Regions from separate parts of the Homo sapiens genome. Here region 1 is linked to region 2. The links come from fine-mapping of genetic effects on gene expression. A gene starts in region 2. The other region holds a variant in brackets. All regions are shown on one strand. Distances are between the middles of the regions.

Evidence for each region. PIP is the estimated chance that this variant, and not a neighbour inherited with it, causes the effect.
Region 1: its variant is the best candidate, but not a certain one, in a credible set for the expression of ABCA5 in whole blood (TOPMed, PIP 0.54).

The regions. Positions count from the first base shown.
Region 1 is chr17:69,255,293-69,259,687 of GRCh38, forward strand. It overlaps ABCA5 (ATP binding cassette subfamily A member 5), which reads right to left. Exons shown (of 39, transcript NM_172232.4): 29 at 865-991; 30 at 441-558; 31 at 251-342. Among named protein-coding and RNA genes, the nearest start is that of PRO1804, 22 kb to the left of the region's middle. The variant G/C (reference allele first, on the strand shown) is at 1,833.
Region 2 is chr17:69,325,237-69,329,631 of GRCh38, forward strand. It overlaps ABCA5 (ATP binding cassette subfamily A member 5), which reads right to left and starts at 1,897. Exons shown (of 39, transcript NM_172232.4): 1 at 1,816-1,897. RefSeq lists silencers at 1,584-1,673, 1,804-2,183 and an enhancer at 2,264-2,403.

The DNA of each region.
Region 1 (4,395 bases), 70 kb before region 2:
AACTCACGCATGTAAGCATTACAAAAGCAGAAATACTGTATATGCGTGTGTCTACATGTGTCTATGAAAATTTCACCATGCACATTATTTTTACAGATAACCCAAAAGATCATAATTTGATCAGGCTGTACAAAAAATTCTAAAAATATACATAAAAATTGAATATAAAATCCGAATTTGTCACTAAAAGTTTATGTTAATTAACAATATAAATCACATTCAACATATCCTATACTCTTATATATCATACCTGGCCTGAAGTTGGTTCAATATCACCAACCAGAATATTAATAATTGTGCTTTTGCCAGCACCATTTGGACCCAATAGTCCTAAGATCTCTCCTAAAGGAATTGAAAGAAAAAAAAATCATAATCAAATCATACTAAAAGTAGAAATTACTCTTCTAGAAAAGTTATGTAAGGAAAAATTAAATACCAGCCTTTTTTCACACAGAAAGAGATGTATTTAGTTGCCACTTTCTTTACTTTTCTTGAAAGAAGAAAATCTTTCTTGTCATCATATTCTTTATGCAAATTGCTGACCATAATGGATGGTTTCTAATAAGAAAAATTGTATTTAAAAAGAAAGTTATAAAACTTATCATGAAATGACAGGCTGCACATACCTCATATCCATATTACAAAAATTATATTGGCTAATAAGGGGATACTGTACAAATAAATATCCATTTATGACTGAAATTCTGGCTTATTCAAAAGTAAGTAAACGAAGTATTTTTTTCCAAGAAAGATTTTTTTCAGATTGCTTCATATGCAAAGAAAAATATTTTTCAGATTAATTTCTATATACCGGGAATTGATCATTTCATATTTACTATGACTTAGCCATAAAGAATAAATTACCTCCTCACAACACTGGCAACCCATCAGCTCTTTGACCTTTAGTCTTTCAGCTTTGACATCTTCATCTTCATCCTCATTGTCTGGTGGTTCTGGAAGCTTCCTATTTTTAGACTTCGTTGAAAGGTTTCTACATATATATAATAAATATAAAAGACAGTAGGTTTTCAAATAATTAAAATAGTAAGAAATTCAGATACTAGGTAGAGAAAAGACTGAAAAAATACACTAACATAAGATCTAGGATTATCTCTGAAAGGTGGAATTATAAGCGATATTTCTTTTTTTTTCTTTCTTTCTTTCTTTTTTTTTTTTTTTAAGACAGGGTCTCACACTCTGTTGCCCAGGCTGGAGTGCAGTGGTACGATCTCAGGTCACTATAACCTCTGCCTCCTGGGTTCAAGCGATTCTCCTGCCTCAGCCTCCTGAGTAGCTGGGATTACAGGCACGCGCCACCATGCCCGGCTCATTTTTGTATTTTTAGTAGAGACAGGGTTTCACCATGTTGCCCAGGCTGGTCTCAAACTCCTGGCCTCAAAAGATCCACCTGCCTCAGCCTCCCAAAGTACTGGGATTACAGGTTCAAGCCACCATGCCCAGCCACAAGCATTATTTTTCAATGACTGATAACATTTGGACGATATTATCTAAATTCATTCATTTATTCAACAATATTATTTATGACTAGTAGGTGTCAGGTATTATTACACAGAAAGAAAGATGAAAAAACATGAACCTTGCCCTCAAAAAATTTACAACCTGAGTATAAATGAAATTGCCCAGAAAGAGTAGATGTAGAGGGTTGACATCAGAACCCACAGTAACACCATTTTTAGGGATAGACAGAGGATGAAGTGCTTGCAAAGGCAATTTTGAAGTACAGAGGCAAACAGAAGACATAATGGAAAACAAAGGAACAAGAAAAATGTGGCCAGGCGCAGTGGCTCCTGCCTGTAATCTTAGCACTTTAA[G/C]AAGCCGAGGCATGCAGATCACTTGAGGTCAGCAGTTCAACACCAGCCTAGCCACCATGGAGAAACCCTGTCTCTACTAAAAAATAAAATACAAAAATTAACCAGGTGTGGTGGCACATGCCTGTAATCCCAGCTACTTGGGAGGCTGAGGCAGAAGAATCGTTTCAACCAGTGAGCTGAGATCATGCCACTGCACTCCAGCCTGGGTGACAGAGTGAGATTCCATCTCAAAAAAAAAAAAAAAAAGAAAAATGTGTAAGGAGAACAATGTCAATCATATTAAAGCCTGCAGATTAGTTAAATAAGTTGAGCCTATTAGACAATGAAAAGACAAAATCATTAGTTATCTTATTGAAAATAGTATCAATGGAAAGGTAAGGGAAAACCCAGATTGCAGGGAGTTATAGGAGTGGATGGAAGGTGAGTAACTGGAGATAGAAGAATTTTGGCTATGAAAGGAAAGAGAGATATAGAATAGGAATTAGGGATGGATTCATGTTCAAATGAGATCCATGGGTTCTTTCATATATGAAAGAAAGGTGACCCTCCCCAACCCCAAAAATATACCACTGAGATCCAGAAAGGAAAGAGAAAAAGAGAAAAAAATACACTATTGAGATCTAGAAAGGAAAGAGAAAAAGAGAAAAAATACACTTTTGAGATCCAGAAAGGAAAGAGAAAAAGAGAAAAAGAAAATTGAGCAATATTCCAAGTATATAGAATAAATGAAGATTTGGGTAATAGGATGGACTGCTGCTTCCTCTAGGACTGGGAAAAGGCAAAAATGATGGAAGATGTGAGTAAGTTTGTAGAAATTTATAACTTATAATTAAGTGCTTCTATTTTCTGAGATAAATGACAAGATTATTTACTGAGAAGTAGGAAGTAAGATAAGGTGATTTGAGGAATACAAGGAATAAAGAGAAAGCTTTGAATAACTATTGAAAAGAAAGAGATAAGAAGGTGCTAACTAGGAAAATGTTATTCGTTACCAAACAGTATTAAAATATAACTACCATTCAACCCAGCAATCCTACTACTGGATATATATCCAAAGGAAAAAAAAAATCATTACATAAAAAAGACACCTGAACTCATATGTTCATCATGGTACTATTCACAATAGCAAAGTCATAGAACCAACCTAAGAGTCCATCAACAGTTGACTGGGTGAAGAAAATATGGTACATATACACCATGGAATACTCCACAGCCATAAATAGAATGAAATTATGTTCTTTACAGCAACATGGATGGAACTGGAGACCATTATCCTAAGTGAACTAATTTGGAACAGACAATCAAATACCACATGTTCTCACTTATAAGTTCTCACTTATAAACAGACAATCAAATACAACATGTTCTCACTTATCAGTGGATACACATGAACATAAACATGGAAACACTAGGACTGTGGACTCCAAAAGGGGGTGGGGATAAGGGTTGAAAAACTACCTATTAGGTACAACGTTCACCATTTGGGTAATGTTACAATAGAAGCCCAATCCCCACCAGTATGCAATATACCCAGCTAACAAACATGCACATTTACCCCCAAATCTAAAATATTTTTTTTAAAAAACCAGCTGAATTTATATGGAATAAATATGTAGTATTATCAAATGGAACTTTTATGTTATTTTTTCCAGCATATAATTCGATTCACCAATAATTATAATTTTTAGTGGACAGTTCGAAAAGACAAAAGTTGAGGATGCTGAAATGATAATAAAGTGATGAATCATGTAAGCAAGGCTGGATAGAAGAAAAAGTAAAAACAAATTAGCTAATATATTTGGAAGAATATGTAAAAAAGACAAACAATAACAAGCATTGGCAAGGATGTGGAGAAAATAGAACCCTAAAACATTCCTAGCGGGAGTGTAAAATGGTATTACCACTTTAGAAACAGTCTGGCAATTCCTCAAATGACCCAGCAATCCCATTTCTAGGTATCCACCCAAGAGAAATGAAAATATATGTCCATACAAACAGTTGTATACAAACTAGCAACATTGTTCATAATAGCTGAATTCATAGCAGCATTGTTCATAATAGTTGAAAAGTAAAAGCAACTCATTAAGATATATAAAAAGTGCTACACACGACTACATGATAAGCCCTCCAAACATTATACTAAGTGTAAAACCATATGCTAGATACTAATTATAGTGCCCAAATCCTAGCAATTTTTCAAAGATGTTATCTGGCAAATCTGATGATTTTCCAACATTAAAATAACATGCCAACCAACTATGGTAAAAAGCAAACAGATATAAAAGTTAAATACAAGGTATTTAAGAGAATTGTTGGTCTTTTGACTCAAGTTTTCCAAAGCATATTTCCATTGTCCAGTTATATAAAGTGTTCAGAACAGGCAAATCTGACAGAAACAGAAAGTAGATTAGTGGTTACCTAAGACTGGGAGCTATGGGAATAGGGATAAGAAAGTGGCTGTTAATGGGTACAAAGTTTCTTTTTGGAGTGCTGGAAATGTTCCAAAATTATGTTATGGTAATGGTTACACAGTTCTGTAAATATACTAAAAACATTTAAAATT
Region 2 (4,395 bases):
AAGTCAAGGCTGCAGTGAGCCAAGATCCTGCCACTGCACTTCATCCTGGGTGACAGAATGAGACCCTGTCTCAAAAAAAAAAAAATGCTAGTTGTCAATATAATTTAACCTAAATTTTATCACAGTGTTTCTTGCTGAGGGAGAAAATAACAATGCAATGGTACACAGAGGACAAGTCATCCAATAAATTTTCTTATGCATAATAGGTCCTTAAAAGCTTGCCCTTAAAACTATTTTTAATCCAACTAATTTACATACTAGAAAAGTTATGACTTAGTACAATATCATAAAATTCTTTTATGCAATCACCCTCTCAACTAAACTCAAGGACAGAGATTATAAATTGTATTCATATCGGTACTCTTGGCACATAGTATGGTATCTGGAATGTAAAAGACATGCAACAAACCAGCCTGGGCAATATAGCAAGACTTCGTCTCTGAAAAACAAATAAAAAATTACCTGGGCGCAGTGACACACGCCTGTAGCCCCAGCTATTCAGCAGGGTCCCTAGAGTCCAGACGTTCAAGGCTGCAGTGAACTTTGATCGCACCACTGCACTCTAGCCCGAGACGCTGTCTCTTTAAAAATAAAAGACATGCAATACACATGGAATGTACTAATAAATTTGCTCTTATAGTGAATGTAAGATTTCCCTACACTAAATCTGTTTGAAAGGAAATATACTCAAACAGCACATATGCAAAGATTAACGCCTCTTTAGTTTGATTTTAACACAAATACCCACAAAGCCCTAACTGCCCTAATAATGTTCCCTACTATGGAGTCTTCCCTAAAACACATACAATATTGCTCTCCCGGCAAACACAAAATATACTAAATAAAGCACCAGAATTAGGGTCTGGCAGCCCGGGTTGGAATCTCAACTCCATCCTTTTACTAGCTGAGACCTTAATAAGTTACTTAACCTCTTTGAGGCCCATTCTCCACACCTGCCCAACTGGAATAACCCCCTCCAATCCTACAGGGTTGCTGTCAGAATGAAAAGAGCTAATACCGAGCCTGGCTTAAAGCTGTAGTCCAGCAAATACTCCTCTTCCCTTAGATTCCTTCAGAACGCCCTTGTAGAAAGTAAACGTGGTTATTATCTTCATTATTTTCGGACTTATTTATTTAAAACGTAAATCGAAGCCTGAGGAGCCCAGGGGAAAACCTCCTTCAGCTTAATAGCTCCAGCCTGCCCAGCTTTCCGATCCAATTAAGTATTTCCATGCCTGGAGCTCCTATTCGTGTTTTAGGATCAGGGAATTTCCCTCCCAAACTGTGTCATGAGATCTGCGCATTTTCTTCTCACTGAAACTCCTTTTAACACGCAAGGTAATGATCCGCGCGTAACCTCGCAGGGAAGAGCAAGCGCTCATTACCCAGCTGTTCAGACGGAAATTTACATCAATATTTGTTTTCCTTCTTTCCCTGAGGTTGCTGAGGGTGGAACGACAGCGTCCAGGCAAAGGCAGTGTCCCGAAGTCCCACGGCCGGACCCGGTCCCAGGGGAGCCTCGCGGAGCCCCCGCCGCAGGGCCCCGACCCCCTCACGTCCGCATCCTGGGCGCTCCCACCGCATCCCCGAGGCTGGCAACCCGCGCTTCCCGGGAGCTGAGGGAGGTCTGTTTCCCTCAGCTCGCCGCCTCTGCCCGCTTCCGAGCCCGCTTCACCCCACACCTCAGACGCCGAACTCCCCTTCTCTCCCCGCCGTCCCTCGCTGGCCAGCCCCTCCTCGTCCCCTCAACTCCCCCAGGGACGGCTGTCCCAGGCTAGCCTCAAGCGCCGCCGCCGCCCGCGACGCCCGCCTCACCTCAGGGCCCGAGCCGCAGAGCTGTCAGGCCTGGACGCGCTCAGTCTGTTGACTCAGTGCGGGTGACCCAGCTGGGATCTGTGCGAGGGCGCGGCCGCGCGCACCCGCGCGCTCCTGGCGCAGGCAGAGCTGGCGGCGCCGAAGTCGCGCCCCGCCTCCTGCAGAGCGCACCTGAGGGCGGGGCTCCTAGAAAGCGCCGCTCCGCGTACGGGCGCGCTTCAGACGCTCGGCCCCGCGCGTCCCGGCGCACGCAGGCAAGCAGCGCGCCCGGAAGAGGAGAGCGGCTGAGGGTGGGGCGAGCGGTGGCGCGCCGCTGCCCAGGGCCCCTGAGCCACTAGAGTCGGGCCTCGTGGCTCTTCCCCAGGGCCTCCCACGCCTGGGTTCTGCGGGGATCTCGCCACGCTCTTTCTGGAGGCACGGGCAAAAACCACGGCCTCGTGTCTCAGTGGTAAACCTGCCGCCTCTTAGCGGGTGACCTTGGCCCACGGCCCTCTCCTCATCTGCCTCGCCCAGTCACGTCTCCTCTTAAGCATCCTTGCCGTCTGTCTCCTGGCATTTGGATGGGCCTCTCTGAACGCGTTTTGAGTCCTCTGCAGCCCCGCTTCCTCCCGCCGCGGCATCTGGAGTGCTGTGGCCCCGTTTCCGTAACTCTTGCCTCCCCTCCCCAGCCTCCTCATTGGCCCTCACACCCCGACCTGGGAGGTCCTCCCACTGAGGGTGCTTGTAGTTCGCGGAGTGTCCTCATCAAAGACTGGGAATGCGGCAGATGCTGAATTTTCCAAACGGCCTGAGACACATGACATCTGTGAGAGACTGGATACTGCACTTACTTTGCTAAAAATATAATCTAGTGTTTTGAGCTTCATTACTCAAAGTGACCTAAATGGGGTCAAAAGTTATTAACACTAACATTACGTATTTTCCTCTCCACATTTCTGTATAGTCACATTCCCTTGCACAAAGACTTTTTTTTTATTCTGTCAATCCTGTGTACATCATGTTTTTTTTTTTTACTTGTCTTTGTGTTATCTGCTTCTCGAATTTAAACCAGGTCTCCCCAACATGCACTCTGCTTTCTAAATTCTTAGGGGAAAAACAAACAAACAAGGAATCAAGTTTTACTTATGGAATATGAATTAAATAGAAAATTCAAAGAGGTTCGTCAGAATCCTTGATGATTAAAACAGCGGTCCCCAACCTTTTGGGCACCAGGGACCAGTTTCATGGAAGACAGTTTTTTCTGGGGGAGGGAGGATGGTTTGGGGATGATTCAAGCACATTATATTTACTGTGCACTTTATTTCTACTGTTACTACACTGTAATATGTAATGAAATAATTATACAACTCACCATAATGTAGAATCAGTGGGAGCCATGAGCTTGTTTTCTTGCAACTAGACAGTCTCATCTGGGGGTGATGGGAGACAGTGACAGATCATCAGGCATTAGATTCTCATAAGGAGCACGCAACCTAAATCCCTCACATGCGCAGTTCACAATAGGGTTCTCGCTCCTATCACAATCTAATGCCACTGCTGATCTGACAGGAAACGGAGTTCAGGCCCTAATGCCAGCCATGGGGGGCCCCTGTAAATACAGATAAAGCTGCACTCACTTGCCCTCCGCTCACCTCCTGCTGTGCTGCTTGGTTCCTCGCAGGCCACAGATCCCGGTAGCAGTCTCTGGCCTGGGGATTGGGGACCCCTGGATTAAAAGATCTAGCAATGGGGATGGGGGAAAGGGAGATAAGTATATTCAAAAAACTACACCAGGAAACTAAAGAAGGCATGTAATGAAAACTATCCCTGATATATTCTGTCTCTTTTGGAAACATCTAGAACATTTTAGTTACAAATTCTCAATGGCCTAGGATTTGGGGCCAAGTAAAGAAATATACATGAAAGATAAACTTGGTTAACATGTTACTGAACCATACTTTCACCCCAACACTTCTCACTAGTAGCCTTAACCTGCCTTAACTTCAGAAGTCTACTCATTTCTACTACTATTCTAGGCATTTATTTCTTACATTTCTTATCCTTGTAATGTTCTCTGTCATTCATTCTGTCTGCTCATGCTTTTACTCTTGTTTCTAAATGACATGACCAAAACCCAATTCTCCAAAAATCTCATCACCCTGGACAAAATGATCTCACTCTCCTCCCAATTGCCTACATACTACCATCTTGTTCACATCATTTTATTTACTTACCATCTCTTCAATTAAATTGTAAATAGTCTTAGGTTAAGAGCTTTTTCTTGACTTGTCTTTTTCTTTTCTTTTCTTTCTTTCTTTATTTTTGTGACAAAGTTTTGCTCTGTCACCCAGGCTGGAGTGCAGTGCCATGATCACAGCTCACTGCAACCTCTACCTCCCAGGTCCAAGTGATCCTTCCATCTCAGCCTCCTAAGTAGCTGGGACTACAGGTGCATGCCACCACACAGGCTAGTTTTTGTATTTTGTTGTAGAGACAGGGTTTTTCCATGTTGCCTAGGCTGGTATCAAGCTCCTGGGCTCAAGTGATTCTCTGTCCTTGGCCTCCAAAAGTACTGGGATTACGGGCCTGAGCCATAGCACC